Homo sapiens: one gene and its partners. The protein of the gene in region 3 purifies or fractionates together with the protein of the main gene of each other region. This does not show direct contact. Each region holds a gene or a part of one and is shown on either strand. Other genes may lie near its edges.

Region 1 (3,943 bases), on a different chromosome or scaffold from region 3:
CTCCACACATGCTCCCTGGGCAGGGGGAGCCGGGCCTTCCTGGTGTAGCACCTGGGGCCCCATCGGCCCCACCTGGTCCTCCCACTCTCATGGACAAACTCCAGAGAAAGGAGGCCAAGGCTCTTCACCCTGGGGACCCACAGGCGTGCGGGGCTGCAGGAAGAGCATCCTGGTTGCAATCTAGGGCTGAGGTGGCCTCTGCTGAGCAGGCTTGTTTCAAAAGCTCCGGCTTCTTGGCGGCCCGAAGCTTCCACGCAATCCTCTTAGGCTGCCGAGCTAAGTCCCTCTGGCAAAGGGGGTGACCCCCATCCTTGCACCCCCCACAGGTAGGGAGGCGTCTGTTGGTATTGGTCAGTGACCAACTCTGGGAGCCTACTGCTCTGACTGGTGGAAGGGTGGGTGGGGGCATGGCTGTGGTCCCAGGCACAGCTGAGCCTAGCACAGAGAAGCTGGACCAGGGTTAGGGGGGCCCTGCAGCAGGAACGTGCATCTGTGCAGAGCAGACTAAGTGCTGGGCCGGAAGCAATCCTTCAGGGGCCCTAGACAGGCAGCTCTGTGACCGCCAAGTGTAGAATGTGGCTGTAAGAGGCTCAGAACATCACCTCCCAGGCTGGGAGCTGCAGTGTGTGTGTGTGTGTGGGTGTGTGTGTGTACAGTTGGGGGAGGGGGGAGAAAGAAAAGTGGGAAGATGCCCCTCCAACTCTAGGACCCCAATTTCCTGACAGCCTGAGAAAGACCACAGAGCAAGGATTGAGGTCTGTGCAGGGGAGCAGTGTCTCGGACTCTGCTCAGCTCCAGGCTGGCTGGACCTTCCAGGCTCCCCAGGCACACCTGAGAGCCTACAGCCTCTGGACCCAAGAGTGCCAGCCAACACGCCTACAACCGCCCAGCCTCCTACCACCAGCCTGTCTGCAAATTCAGTCCTAAGGCAAATTTGGAAGAGAAACAAAAGGCAGACAAGAAGCCCTGCTCCTGGCCCTTCCCAGCCCAGACTTTGGGGAGAAAGGCCCCGCAGGGCATCCCTGCAGGACGAATGGGCACCAACAGGAACAGGAGGAAAATAACCCCAACTTTAACTGCTGGAAACCCAGCAGCACCCCAGGTTCCCCTACAAACGGCTTCCCAGAAGAGCTGCCCCGGCACCCCTCCCATGCTCTGTGTCCTCACGCAGCTCAGCTCTGACATGGGGCTGGGGGACCCCAGAGAAGGGGTGTGGCAGCACAGGTTCCCTGGACCAGCTCAACTACCCCCAACCTGGCTGGTAGCTTCCTGGGGAAGGTGGTCCCCCATCGGGTGGCTTTTGTTCCTCTCTCCAGGCAAGCCTGTGCCTGGAAGAATTCGGCTGGCAGGCCCCACTGGGAGGACAGGCGGTACTGCCTCCTCCCCGCCCCCAGCCCCAGGTCAACAGGGCCTTTGTTCTACCTGCACACACCGGCAGGCAGGCGGGCAGAGCCAGCCCCCTTCCCTGGCAGCTCCCCCACCCTCTGAAGGCAGGCACTCCAGGCACAGGGGCGGCACCTCACTACTCTCACTTCCACTTTTGGGACCACAGCACCGAAGCGGCACGGGGAAGCCAACACTCCAGGTAGGCCACGCACACACCCAGAAGCCCGCGTCCCCAAGTCCGGCGGGCCAGACCTCACGGCGCACAGCAGGTAAGGTGGCCCGAGGGCAGCGGGCGGGGACCCTGGAGAAAACCCGGGCGCTGCGCAGTCAAGCCGGCAGTAGGGCAGCACAAGGCAAGGAAGAGAGTGAGAGCGAGGTCAGAAAGCGCGGTGACAGCCGGCTCACCCAGAGGAGCTGGGAGCCTCGGGCGCTCGGCAGGTCGGGAGGGGTGCCGGCGAGTGGGGGCCCCCAAGAGGGCAGAAGGGGGTAGGGAAGGCAGGGCCGACCCAGTACAGCACGGCGGGCATACGGCCCGGCCTCGGGGGCGCAGCTGCGCGAGGATCCCGCCGCCCGGGCGCTCACCTGGGCGTGCGCAGCGCGGCGGAGTCGCGGCGGTCCAGCACGCCGGGCACGCAGTTGGTGAGCTCGGTCCAGTCGGCGTGCAGCCCGCAGCTCCAGCCGGTGGAGAAGCGGGAGAAGAGCCAAGTCTCGCGGCGGTTGGGCCGGTAGCAGGTGCACTTCTTCTGGCCGGGCCGGCAGTCGCACGGCACCTCGAGGCGTACGTTCTGCACGAGGTGGCGGCCGAAGGTGGTGCCGCCCGTCTTCTGGATGTGCAGGAAGACGATCACGTCGTCGCCCTTCATGTCGAAGCGCAGCGAGCGCTCCAGCTCGCGGACCGGGAAGTAGTACTTCTTCTCGTAGTGGGGGTCGGGTGTGGGGAACAGGTCCAGGTCGTCGGGCGGCGCGCGGCCGCCGGGCGCGCCCAGGCTCAGTCCTGGGCCCGCGTACTGGTACAAGATGAGCATGAAGCACACCGAGCCCGCCACCACCAGCACGAACTTGCTGGCGCGCTCAACCATGGTCCTGCCGCCGGCGCGCCGCCGCCGCATGTGTCACCATCGCCGGGGCCCGGGCGCGGGGCGCGGGGCCTGGGAGGGCAGGAGGCGCGGGCGCAGCTGCCTCCGCCGCCGCCCGCGCTCCGGCCCGGCCCGGCTACTCGGCGCCCAGGCCGCCCGCAGCGGCGCGGGCCCCGACCCTCCGCGGTGCCATGGCTGCTCCCCGCCCGGCCCCGGCTCCCCGGGCCCGACGCCCGACTCCGCTCCCGCTCGGCCCCGCTCCCGGCCCCGGCCAGCACAGCGCTCTCCGCGCCCCCAGCACCAGCCCGCTCCGCTCCACTCCGCGCCGAGAACGCTCTGCGCCGCCCCGCGCGCCGCCGCGTCTCCGCAGTCCGCCGCCGCCGCCCCGCCCCGGTCCGCCCCTGGCCCGCCCCCGTGGCGTCTCTTGCCGTCGCCGCCCGCGCCGATCCTCGGCCCCGCCTCCGGAGTGCCGGGGTTCGCCGCGGGTGCTGGGCGCGGGACCTGGGTCTGCTGCGGTGGCGAGGCCGCTAGCAGGCGGGCAGCCAGCGACTGGGAAGTGATTCCGCCCTCAGGGGAGTGGGGGACCAACCGGCAGTGCGGAGCCGAGGCGTGGGAGGCTCTCCTGGCGGGGGCCGCGGTGAGGGGGCGCGGCGGCTGGCGCTTCTGGAGCCTGGGTCCGTACCCCCTCCTCCCCAAGTCCCAGCCGCCCACGTCCCCGCAGCCCGCGCGGGAGGAAAGGCCTTGACCTTGCACGCTGGGGCGCTGAAGTTAGACGCTAGCCTACTGGGCTGCACTTCCAGGGACCAGGGCGGCGGGGGCCGCCCACCACCAGGACCGAGAGGGAAAGCGAGGCTTTCCTTTCCTGCTCGACCCCCTCACCCCTGCGGCTGGCTTTGGGACAGTGCCCCGCAGCCCCGCATTGAAGAGATGTTGGGCTGTCTGCAGAGGCCTGCGGAGCGGCTTTATGGCTTCCTCCTTGTTTGAAAAGAATATCAGACGAGGTGCATTTTCCCCCATCCATGTTTATTATACTCCAATGAAAGAGTTATAAAACATTGAGCCAATTCTTAAGAATCGTGAGTGCCCACCAAATATTCTGTCTTTCGTGGGTTGGTTGGAGAGTCCAGCGGCCCGGGCCCAACCTGGCTGCGGAGGGCTCGCTCCACGTTGGCTCGTGTGTGGGCCGGGTGGTGCGGGCTCCTCACTCGCCGCCGCCCAGCCTGGCAAGCACGCGCGGCATTCGTGGGGCGGGGGGTCCCGCCAGGTGCCCACTCACACTGCTTGGGCTCTGGCAGTACTCGGAGGCTGCAGCCCGTCGGAAGCGCAGGAGTGGGGCTGGGACCTGCCAGGATCTCACAGCTGCAGGGCCGGCCGCGGTGGGCCCTAGTGTGTTGGTTCAGGCCAGCGAGGGCTCTGGGAGCGAGTCTGGCTGCCAGGCGTGGGCTCCCAGTGTCCACGTCAAGCCCTGCCGGGGACGGGGT
Region 2 (4,022 bases), on a different chromosome or scaffold from region 3:
AATATTATGATGGTTCTGGAAAGCTAGTCTGGATTTTGGATTTGATCTTGGGGATATTAGTAAACCATTAGAAGATGTCTTGGAATTGTAAATCTAGAGCAATGCGCTAGAAAGGAGATAGGAAAGAATGAAGGCAGGAAAATCAGTGTGCTATTTTAGTAGTCTATGACTTATGTGTAAATGCCTGGACAAAAACTAGGCACTATTTCATCTCCAGAGCATTCTTCATTCCAAATTCTCCAAAAGTTATGGTTTCCTGTAGCTATCAATGACAATGCACTTAATTACCTTGTAATTCGAATGCTTCCATTAGGAATTTTACTATGCTCTGGATTTTAATTTCAAATGAAAAATAATTCCTTCCTTAAAATATTTTGTCTACGCAAAATATTCTTTTCAATCACGTTAAGATTTTAAAAAGTGTTCTAACTTGTTCTTCAGAGCATAGCCAAGTACAATAAAATATTGGAAGCCTTACTTATATGTATAGTTCAGATGTAACATTTAGGGGAACAATGCTGCTTGATAGGTCTGTCACATTGTGTCTGGTTTTGGATAGAATTTGAGTATTTTTGCTAATGAGAATTTAAACATAACAAAACGGAATGCCAAAGCTGGCTTTAAAAAGTTTTGAACCCTGACATCATTTGTTTCTTGTATCATGCTGTCTCACCAAAATCCAAGCAACTATCTCCACATTGTCCCAATTGTTTCCTCTATTCTCCCTCACCAAAGTCCAACTTCAATGTGAAATTTCCAGATTAAATATCCTTTCACAATTCATTTTCATTCATAACATAAACACGATAAATAACTTTAAGTATGAAAGTAGCACTCCAGGAAGCTTAGTCTTTTGCAGTTTTTACATTTTGGCAACACCAATCAAGCACCTCTTTCCGTCCTTACCCCAATTCCTTGGACACTAAAGAGTCTATATTCAGGCGACTCTTTCAAGTGTATGTTTCAGGGTGCCCAAGCAGACACTTGTTTTCTCGCGGGGGATGTTTTGTGAGACTTGGCCTCCCCACTTACGTTCTATTTTTAGGTGAGGGAGGAGGAGGAGGAGAGGAGGAAAGATTATTAACAAACTAATCTTGCCCATTCCGCGGGCAGTAGTCGGGGGCTGGCCTGCTCCGCGTCGCGCCGGGCGCGCCCCGCCCTACCGCGCCCCGCGCGGCCCCGGCCGGAAGGGGGCGTGGGCCGCCGCCGAGGGAAGGCGCGCAGACGCGCAGCGGCCGGCCTGCTCCGGGCGCGTCAGGCAGGGGGTGGGGAGCAGGGGCCGGGCGGGCGCTCGGCTCCCAGCCGCGCTCCCTCGGGCCACTAGCGCTCCCGCGCGCGCCCGGCCGCCTTCATGTGAAGCGCCGGCCCTCCGCCCCTTCCCTCCCCTTCCTTCCCTCCCTCCCTCCCTGTCCCCTCCTCCTCCTCCTCCTCCTCCGGCGCCCGCTTCAGCTCCCCGGGGCCCCCTGCCCGGCCGGGCGCTGACAGCAAGGGCGGGGGTCCCTGCCGCCGCCTTGTCTCGCGCAGGGTCCGGCTGGGGTAGCGGAGCCCCCAGTGCGGCCATGGACCGGCCCCTGTCGTCGTCGGCGGAGGCGGAGGAGGAACTGGAGTGGCAAGTGGCGAGTCGCAGGAGGAAGGCCTGGGCCAAGTGCCGCAGCTCCTGGCAAGCGTCGGAGACGGAGGATCTGTCCACAGAAGCGACGACGCAGGACGAGGAGGAGGACGAGGAGGAGGACCTCCCCGGCGCGCAGCTGCCGGCAGCGGGGGGAAGAGGTCGGTGCTCCCGGCCGGGCTCCGGGGGGAGGCTGGTGGGCTGGGGAGAGTCTCGTGCGCCCTGGGCGCCTGCCACGAGTTCTGGGAGAGCCTCGGGCACGGTAGGCCGAGGGGAGAGGGGACACTTCCGACCTTCAAACGCGCGCGCTGAACGAGGCGCCCCCAGCGTCAACACAGACAACTGGGTGCCATCCGATTTCCCTGCCAAGGGACACTGAGACGTGTCGCTTAGGCTGCATTTGCCGTGGTAGATTTTCCTACTTGGGAGGGTCCAGGGTGACTCCGCCGTCGTAGTGCTCCTGGGTGGTAACGTGCTGTCCCCTCTCTCTACCCCCAGGAAACGTGCCCAACGAGAAGATCGCGATATGGCTCAAGGACTGCCGGTGAGTGCTCCCTGGTCCGCCCGCGTCCCGGGGGAGATCCGTGCGGACGGGACGCCGGAGCAGAGCCACTCGGGCCGCGTCCCTGTGGGTCCCGCGACCGTTGTAAGCTACAAACCGGAAAGTGAGCCGGCGGATAGCTTCCTCCTCTAAGCGATTAGAAATGGAAGTGCTGTGACCGCTGATTATTTGGTGACCGTGTTGACTTTACAGTTAGGACTTGAGCTACTCACGCATCGTGTTAGCATCAGAGATCAGAAATCCAGAACAGATAATCATGCCATATTTGTTCTGTTTTTATTTGAAAGAATTCTCACATCTCGAACAGGATATTTTGTTTTGCTTTAGTTTTGGCATCTGTACAACTGGCACGGAATCATTTTCCTTTCAAATGTGTTTTAGACGAGTTTAATTTACCTAACTACACTAAATGGGCTTTAATTTTGTTTCTGTTTGGGGAGCTATTAAAACTAGCTAACTTTGTACTTATAGTTTACTTCTTGAACATGGAATTGTCAGATGGCACTGGAATTCTCAGGGAATAGAACTTTTAAAAGCATTCAGACTGCATAAATCTGTTTAATTACATGCTTTGGCAACTGGTACAAAAATGTTTGATAAAATACAGAGGAGATGAATCATGTTGCACGTAAATCTGACTACAGCAAAATGTACTTGTTTCTTATTCCACTTTGCTAGTTGTAAAATCAGGAATGTAGCCTTTAAACTTTTGTTGGTGTTTGCTTTCGAGCATATTTTTGCTTTCTCAATTTAGATTTTCTTAATATTTTGTTCAAATATTAGAGTTAGGGTAGTTTGTTTTGTTTTGTTGTGGAAAGTGATTCATATGCCAGTTTGCCTCCTCTAAAGACAGACAAGATATTGGCTACCATGATATTAATGCCTTGTTTTGATGAATCGACTGGAACCTTATTGAACACTCTTTATTACAGAACTCGTACCCTTTATTGGAAGTGTCATAGACCCTTCTGAAATATGATGACATATATGGAATAACTTCTGTTTAAAGATGCACAGAGGCAAATACACTGCTTGAAGTCCTTGGACCCCAGATTTACAATCTAGCTGTAAATCAATCTCCCAGTTTTCAGATAAGCCTTAGATATTAGATACTTCACTCAAAGTATGGATCAAGAAATTGTATTAATGTGCTATTGGTTCATTTAATTGTTAAATACTAAAATAGTCTATAATGTAAAAGCTTGAAATTTTGAATGTACATGTTCAAGACCTTTTGGGTGAGATCTGATAAAACTAGTATCTTTCAGGTTTCCACTTAGAAATGTGTTTGAGAAGTTGTTTTGTAACTTTTACTTAAGTCCTTTAAAGCCTCCAATCTGACTCTTTATTTAAATACAGTCCTAAGTACAGTATTGGCTTACTTTAGGTTTCTTAAAATAGGCTTAGCATTACAAATACATTTATAATGTTTTATTGTTTAAATTCAAGTGCATATTCAAAAGAATTTTAAAAATTAAGAACAAGAGAAGAATCACACTATAGTTTAATGACATATAGGATTTAAGATTGTATAAGAGATCCTATCAATTAGACAGTAAATAAGTGCATCTTTTTTGAGACAAATGCAGTAGGCAAATGTTGACATTCACCAGGGCACAGTCAATCCCTGACAATTTCAGAAGTTTTGTTGCCAATACTGATTTATGTGGGCAGATTCTGTAGTCTGCTGCTCCTTCTCTCATGGATTACCTTCTTGTTCCTACAGTTGCACCTATTCTACACAAGAGTGGCATTCATTTGTATCCAGGAAAGCTAGAACAAGTAGTCTTTTAATCTTGGCTATATTATCACAGATTCGACTTAGGATATGTTGCATCTGTATTTTTGTTT
Region 3 (3,500 bases):
TCTGGGGTCCTGGCAGAAAGTTGTTACAAGGGAGGAGCCACCACAGAGAGCATGTACTAGGGGGCAGTCATGGGAGCGAGGCTACCCCAGAGACTCCCGAAATGTAGAGCTGCAGGTGTACAACTCCAGCCTGGGAGAGCTGCAGGCATAGGACTCCAACCCAAGAGAGCTGCTGAGTGGATCGGGTCCAGCAAAGCCACAGGGGCAGGGCTGCCCGTGGCATTGGCAACCTAATTCCTGCTGTAGCATGTCCAGGATGCAGGACATACAGAGCCAAAGGACATTATTCTCCAGCTTTAAGACTTGATGTTGTTTTACCTGTTGGGTTTTGGACATACTGAGAACCAGTTACTTCTTTTCTTTTTCTATTTCTCCCTTTTGGAATGGGAATGTCTGTTTTATGCCTGTTCCATCACTGTGTTTTGGAAGTAGATAACTTGTTTTGATTTTATAGGCTCACAGCTGGAGGACATTTGAGGTGGGATGAATCTTGAGTCTCATATCTGATTTAGATGGAACTCTGGACACTGGGCTTTTGAATTGATGCTTTTGGGCTATTGAGATGGAATGAATATATTTTGTATGTAAGAAGAACATGAGTTTTGGGAGGCCAGAGGTGGAATGTTATGGCTTGAATGTCTCCTCCAAAACTCATGTTGAAATTTAATTGCCTTTGTGCTATTGGACTTCCTAGCCCCTAGAACTGTGAGAAATAAATTTCTTGGTAAATTACTCAATTTCTGTTCTGTTACAGCAGCAGAAAACAGACTAAGACATGACAAGAAAGAGTTAATTCTTTCAAGTAAGTGCCTCAGGTACACTCTGGGAAAATATGACTGAATGAGTTACTGCTCAGCCTAAAATTAAACTCCTGGCTTCTTGTCTTGCATATGAACTATTAGGTCGCATTACTTTCCACTGATGGATCTATTTTTTTAATGAATTGAAAAAAGAATACCCAGTGGTTCCTTTTGTGTGAAGAAAATAAGAAAAATATTAGCCAGGAAAGGTCATTTTGGTTTCCAATATGTGGGGAGTTCATTATGATGAGTTCTGATGAATTATATTGTGTAGTTCTTTCTGATAGCAGAAGGTCACATCATGCCGTTGGGTGGACGTAAGGACAAACACACTTAATAAAGTTGGAGGATCTGGGAGATGAACATTTTCAAGTTGTTTTTTCTGAGCAACTTGTGTTTATACAGCTATTTAAAGCCATTTCTCTCTTGTTGAACTAATTACTCAAGGCCCATACTCTCTTACATGCAGCCCCAAAGTGGTGAGTCTTCAAATTTATCACCGAAAGTGTTCTCTAATCAAACTTGTGGAATTATCTTTGGGTTATCTAAGAGAAAAATCTCAGTTGTGCTTGGTGGTGGATTCTTAATTGGTTCTACAGGATTCTAAAGTAATTAGACTTCATTTCAAAAATCATTTTTATGTTATATTTGCAACTTGAATATTTATTAACACATATCATAATTTTTCTCTGATCTTTACCACTGGGAGGGATGTATTTAACTTAGCATCTTTACAAATGGTATAGTTTCATGTTCTGTTTTTTTCTTAAGATGTGTTTGCTTTAGGGTCATCTGAGTCCTTTTACAAATGTGTTCACTAAGTAGAAAAATCCTTTTAGGTTTATGCGTTGAGGGAATGTCAACTACAGTATTCACAAGTGTTCTTTATATTTTGGTATGGTGGATTATATTGGAAACACTTTTTCTCTTGGTGTCCTATTAATATTTTTTCAAAAAGCAACCTCATAGATTGTCTAGCATCATCTTCAGGCTTATGTCACACAAATCCAGGAATTCAGATCTTCGTGCTGGCTTTTCCACTGCTCCATGGGCTTGGGCAAATTGCATGTCTTGGGAATGCATTATCTCTAACTTCCATTTTTCCTGATGGTCAATGAAATGGGAGAGTGAAATTTGTGCATTTCAAATGATTTGGGACCCTCTGTTAAATTTTGAATACCCTTCCTGCTGCAGAAAGTTCTTTACAACTATGTGGTGTTAACTAATATGTGGCTAATTAATGACTGTAGAATTCTATATCTTTTCCTCCCTAATAGTAGGACACCTTACAACTATGGATATGTTTGGCTGTCTGCCACTTGCCTGAAACTGCAGGTGTCATGGTTAAAAACCATTATTTTGCTACTGGAAATTAGTTTCATTTTAACATTAAAATGCTAATTGATTCCTTTTTTTTTTTTGGCCTTTTTAACATAGGTCTTCTGAGCTACGATAATTTTTTGGAACGGCAGAAATGATTGGTTCTAGCAACAGATGGGAATTTGGAGTCACTCTGAAATATATCCTGGAATAAGTGTGTTTGACTAGAACCACATCTTATGAGGTCCCCAAGGTAAGATTATTTTAACGTTCACCTGGACATGATATCTTTACAAAGTATTGAGAATTTAGCAAAAGTGAGTATCCTGGAGTTGATGATCCGTTTTAGAAGCCTGCTTTTACACTTTTTGGGAATTTGGGGAAATGTTGATTTTTTCATTTTAGCTTTCATCTGTGAAATGAAAATTATTTCAGTTTGCAAAATAGTACTTTGGTTTATTCAGTAGAGGAAAAAATGAAGAAATACAAATCTATTGCTGAAGAGCTTTCTGGCCCCAACCCTACCACTCTGCCCTGGCATTTCTCTGGGGGAATGGTTGTTGAGCTATTGTTAAGTGAATACTTGTTTTAGAGACAGGGAACTTATTGCTACTAACCCAGCAACTTGTTACATAGAATTGTCCACGTAAGAAGAAGATAGATTAGGGATCATTGCCCAGGATTTGGAATGTGTGCCCTTGAGACTTTTGATTTAAGGCATTTGTTGTTGGAATCCAACCAGGAAAACAGAAACCATTCTGCTGGCTTTTTCACTGCTCTGTGAGCTTGGGTAAATTGCATGTCTTGGGAATGAATTATCTCCAACTTCCATTTTTGTCCAGTGGGAAGTGAATTCAGGAGACTGGTTATACATATGATGGGAGAGTCAGAGAAACTGAGCGGAAGATACACAGGAAGCCACTGCCATCCCCTGGCTGGGAACCATGGAAGCAGTTAGACCGTGGGGAGGCAGTGCCTAGAAGAAGGAAACTAGAGTGGAAACTAGAACCACAGTGGACCCTTCTGGCAGGAACTGGAGCCATGGTGGAGAGATGGCCACCCCACAGATCCTGCCAAAGACAGAGAAGGCGGGGAGAAATGTCCTGGCCTATCCCTTTTCCTATTCTCCAGGCTCCAGCTGTTGCGTTTCCTTGACTGAACCCAGCCAGTAACCAGCTGACCTGGGAGCCTGGGAAATGCAGCCTAGAGGGCCCTCCAGCCCTCAATATAGGGGAAGCGGGAGGAATGGATCTGAAGGCAAGACAGGCCCAGGCTGTCATATAATTCATATATTTAAAATAAACTTTTGTTTCTTTTTAATAAACTTGTTTATTTTCATTTTATAATATCACTTTCATTACTGAAGAACATCCCATCTTG
Region 4 (3,500 bases), on a different chromosome or scaffold from region 3:
GGAGGGGAAAAGATGAATTATAGGCGTGAGTCTCTCATTTCAATACAACATTTTTTTTTCCTTTTGCAGGTCTTAATCCTATTTAAGCTAATTCTTCTTGAAAAAAAGGTACGATCCTAAGGGATGAAAGGAAAGATGGAGTATTTAACTTTTATTCACTTTTTTTTACATTATTTCATAAAATTGAAACTAATGATAAAGTATTAAGATACTTTTTGCCTATCATTGTGGTAAGCTGAAGCACATTTTCTTGTTCTCTGCCGTAAAAATATAAATTCATGCAGCTTTTCTGTAGGTAACATACAACTCAATTTTAAGCTGACTTAAATAGAAAGGACATATTGGCTCACTTTGGATTTCAGGATTTGACTCAGTGGCTCCATAGTGTAATTAAGTGCCTAGGTTTTTTCCATCTCTTTGCTCTACAGTGCACAGTGCTAGCTTGTTCCAGGGCCTAGTTTCCCTGGTAGTATAGGGAACTGCCGACAGTAATTGGGTTATTTGCTTCCTCAGTCATAACTGCTGGCAGAAATAATACCTCCTCCTAAACAATCTAATAAGAATTCTTGGCCGGGCACGGTGGCTCACACTTGTAATCCTAGCACTTTGGGAGGCTGAAGCAGGAGGATCACTTGCGCTCAGGAGTTTGAGACCAGCCTGGGCAACATGGTGAAAGAAACCCCATCTCTACAAAAAATACAAAAATTAGCTGGGTGTGGTGGCATGTGCCTGTAGTCCCAGCTACTTGGGAGGCTGAGGTAAGAGGATGGCTTGAGCTTGGGAGGTAGAGATTACAGTGAGCTGAGATCGTGCCACTACACTCCAGCCTGCAAACAGAGCCACTGTCTCAAAAAATAACAATTAAAAAAGCAATAATTATTTCCTTCAATTTGTTTGGGCCTATTACAGGCCACACACATGGCTACTCCTGTGGCCAAATACATGTTTGCCCTGATTGGCTTAAACTTGGGTTCCTGACCACTCCCTAATACAAAGGGATGGGTTTGCCATGATTGGCTTAGTCCCAAGGCCAAATCTGACCTACTACCTATTGTTATACATAAAATTTTATTGGAAATCAGACCCATTTATTTACTTGCTGTTTATGGCTGCTTTCACACTGTAGTGGCAGAGTTGAGTAGTTGTGACAGACCATATGGCCCGCAAAGCAAAAATATTTATCTGACCTTTTAGAGAAAAAGTTCACCAGCCTTTGGTTTAGACTAATCAGGAGCCATCCTTGGATCTGGGCCAGTTTTATACACCGTATTACTGTGCCTAGTGGAGTCGGGGTTGAAAGAATGTTGGGGAGTCGACCATGCACAATATCCACTTTAGTTCATTACCTTAAAAATATTCCTTTGACCCAGTAATTCTCCTGTTAGAGATCTATTTTCCAAAATTAATCTGAATTGGACACAAAGCTCTAAGAGAGTCTATCACAGAATAATAAATTATAAGTGAGTAACTATTAGTTTATCTTGTATGTTGTATAGAATTTCAGACAATAAAAAAGATACTAAGATGTTTTTATTGTTTTAAAGATTTTCATGGCATGTTAAGTGAGAAAAGTTTGTCTACAACAAGTCAAGCCTATGATCCCATTTTATAAATGAATATATATTAATTGAAAAGGGACTGGAAGTAAAGATATCAACCTAGTTTGGTGAGAACATAGGTTATTTTTTTTAAAGGGAATATTTTTCTGTATCCTATTTTTCTATAAGAAATATATATTCCTTCAGGCTGGGCACAGTGGCTCACGCCTGTAATCTCAGCACTTTGGGAGGCTAAGGTGGGTGATCACTTGAGGTCAGGAGTTTGAGAACAGCCTGGCCAACATGGTGAAACCCCATCTCTACTAAAAATACAAAAATTAGCCAGGCATGGTGGCAGGTGCCTGTAGTCCCAGCTACTCAGGAGGCTGAGGCAGGAGAACTGCTTGAACCAGGGAGGCAGAGGTTGCAGTGAGCCAAGATCACACCACTGCACTCTAGCCTGGGTGACAGAGCGAGACTCCATCTCAAAGTAAATGAATGAATGAATGAATGAATGAGTATTCCTTCAAACAGAAAAAAAGATAAAGTTTTTTTTTTAAAAATGAACCCAGCATATTAGTGTGGTATTTCAAAAAATTTTATTTAATTTCTAAAATTGTGATAAAATACACATAACATACAATTTATCATCGTAACCATTTTAAGGTGTACAATTCAGTGCTATTAAGTACATTCATGTTATGCAGCCATCATCACTATCCAGCCACAGAACACTTTGAATTCCTTTTTATTTTTTGAGACAGGGTATAGCTCTGTTGCCCAGGCTAGAGTGCAGCGGTGTGATCATGGCTCACTGCAACCTCTAACTCCCAGGCTCAAGCAATTCTTCCACCTCAGCTTCCTGAGTAGCTGGGACCACAGTGCTGGGATTACCAGCATGAGCCACCACACCCAGTCTGTATTCCTTTATATATGTCCATTTTTTCCCCTGAATCATAATACCTTGAAAGTAATTTGTAGACATTATGGTACTTCACTCCTAAATAAATACTTCAGGATATATTTCTTAAGAAAAAGAAAATATTCCTACATAATCGGAATACCATTTTCACATTCAGGAAATTTAACATTGAGATAATAAGAGAAATCTGACATAAGTCCATTTTCAAATTTCCCCAGATATGATAATGTCCTTTGTAGCTGATGTTTTCTTTTTTTATTATTATTTAATTTTTTATTTTAAAGAATAGAGATAGGGTCTCGCTGTGTTGCGCAGGCTGGTCTTGAACTCCTGGCCTCAAGTGATCCTCCTGCCTCAATCTCCCAAAATGCTGGGATTACAGGTGTGAACCACCACACCTGACCTGATTGTTGTTTTCAGTCTGGGATCCAGTCAAGGATCATGTACTGCATTGCTAGCTCTCTTTTATTTCAAAAAGGTATTCCACCTTTGTCTCTTTTTTTGTTTGTTCTTTTCTTTCTATATTTTGTGACACTGGCATTTTAAAAATAATCAAGACTAGTGTTCTAGGGTGAGATTTGTTTGTTTTGTTGTGGCTAGTTTCAGATTAAACCTTTTTAGCAAAAATCCTACACAGGTAGTGGTGTGTCTCTGTCAGGACATGATATCAGGAGGCCCATAACTATTTGTAGTTAGTAGTATTGGTGATGTGAAGTTCGATCATTTGGTTGAGGTGGTGGTTGCCACCTCAATAGCTAATCCGTAGAATGATAAATTTCAGACATTGTGACTATCCTGTTGTTTCACAGTAGTTTTAGCATCTGTTGGTAATTTGTACCTAAATCACGGTGGATGCTAAATGGTGATTTGTCTGTTAGTACTTCTATGTTTATTAGCTGTTACTCTTTTTTTTTTTTTTTTTTTTGAGACAGAGTCTTGCTCTGTCGCCCAGGCTGGAGTGCAGTGGCGTAATCTCAGCTCACTGTAACCTCCACCTCCCGGGTTCAAGCAATTCTCCTGCCTCAGCCTCCTGAGTAGCT

The links.
Region 1: the proteins of TAFA4 (region 3) and HS6ST1 purify together in Homo sapiens (affinity purification with mass spectrometry; 2 studies listed by BioGRID and IntAct, with this or other methods). This does not show direct contact.
Region 2: the proteins of TAFA4 (region 3) and ITPRID2 purify together in Homo sapiens (affinity purification with mass spectrometry; 2 studies listed by BioGRID and IntAct, with this or other methods). This does not show direct contact.
Region 4: the proteins of TAFA4 (region 3) and AVL9 purify together in Homo sapiens (affinity purification with mass spectrometry; 2 studies listed by BioGRID and IntAct, with this or other methods). This does not show direct contact.

Annotation. Positions count from the first base shown.
Region 1 is NC_000002.12:128,316,069-128,320,011, forward strand, and holds the start of HS6ST1 (heparan-sulfate 6-O-sulfotransferase 1), read right to left. Parts: upstream 2,801-3,943; 5' UTR 2,496-2,800; coding exon 1,969-2,495; intron 1-1,968. UniProt on the Homo sapiens protein: 6-O-sulfation enzyme which catalyzes the transfer of sulfate from 3'-phosphoadenosine 5'-phosphosulfate (PAPS) to position 6 of the N-sulfoglucosamine residue (GlcNS) of heparan sulfate.
Region 2 is NC_000002.12:181,890,508-181,894,529, forward strand, and holds the start of ITPRID2 (protein ITPRID2), read left to right. Parts: upstream 1-1,222; 5' UTR 1,223-1,559; coding exon 1,560-1,770; intron 1,771-2,107; coding exon 2,108-2,153; coding exon of another isoform or gene 2,154-2,157; exon of another isoform or gene 2,158-4,022.
Region 3 is NC_000003.12:68,884,048-68,887,547, reverse strand, and holds part of TAFA4 (chemokine-like protein TAFA-4 precursor), read left to right. Parts: intron 1-2,237; 5' UTR 2,238-2,359; coding exon 2,360-2,373; intron 2,374-3,500. UniProt on the Homo sapiens protein: Modulates injury-induced and chemical pain hypersensitivity. Ligand of FPR1, can chemoattract macrophages, promote phagocytosis and increase ROS release.
Region 4 is NC_000007.14:32,554,489-32,557,988, forward strand, and holds part of AVL9 (late secretory pathway protein AVL9 homolog), read left to right. Parts: intron 1-69; coding exon 70-108; intron 109-3,500. UniProt on the Homo sapiens protein: Functions in cell migration.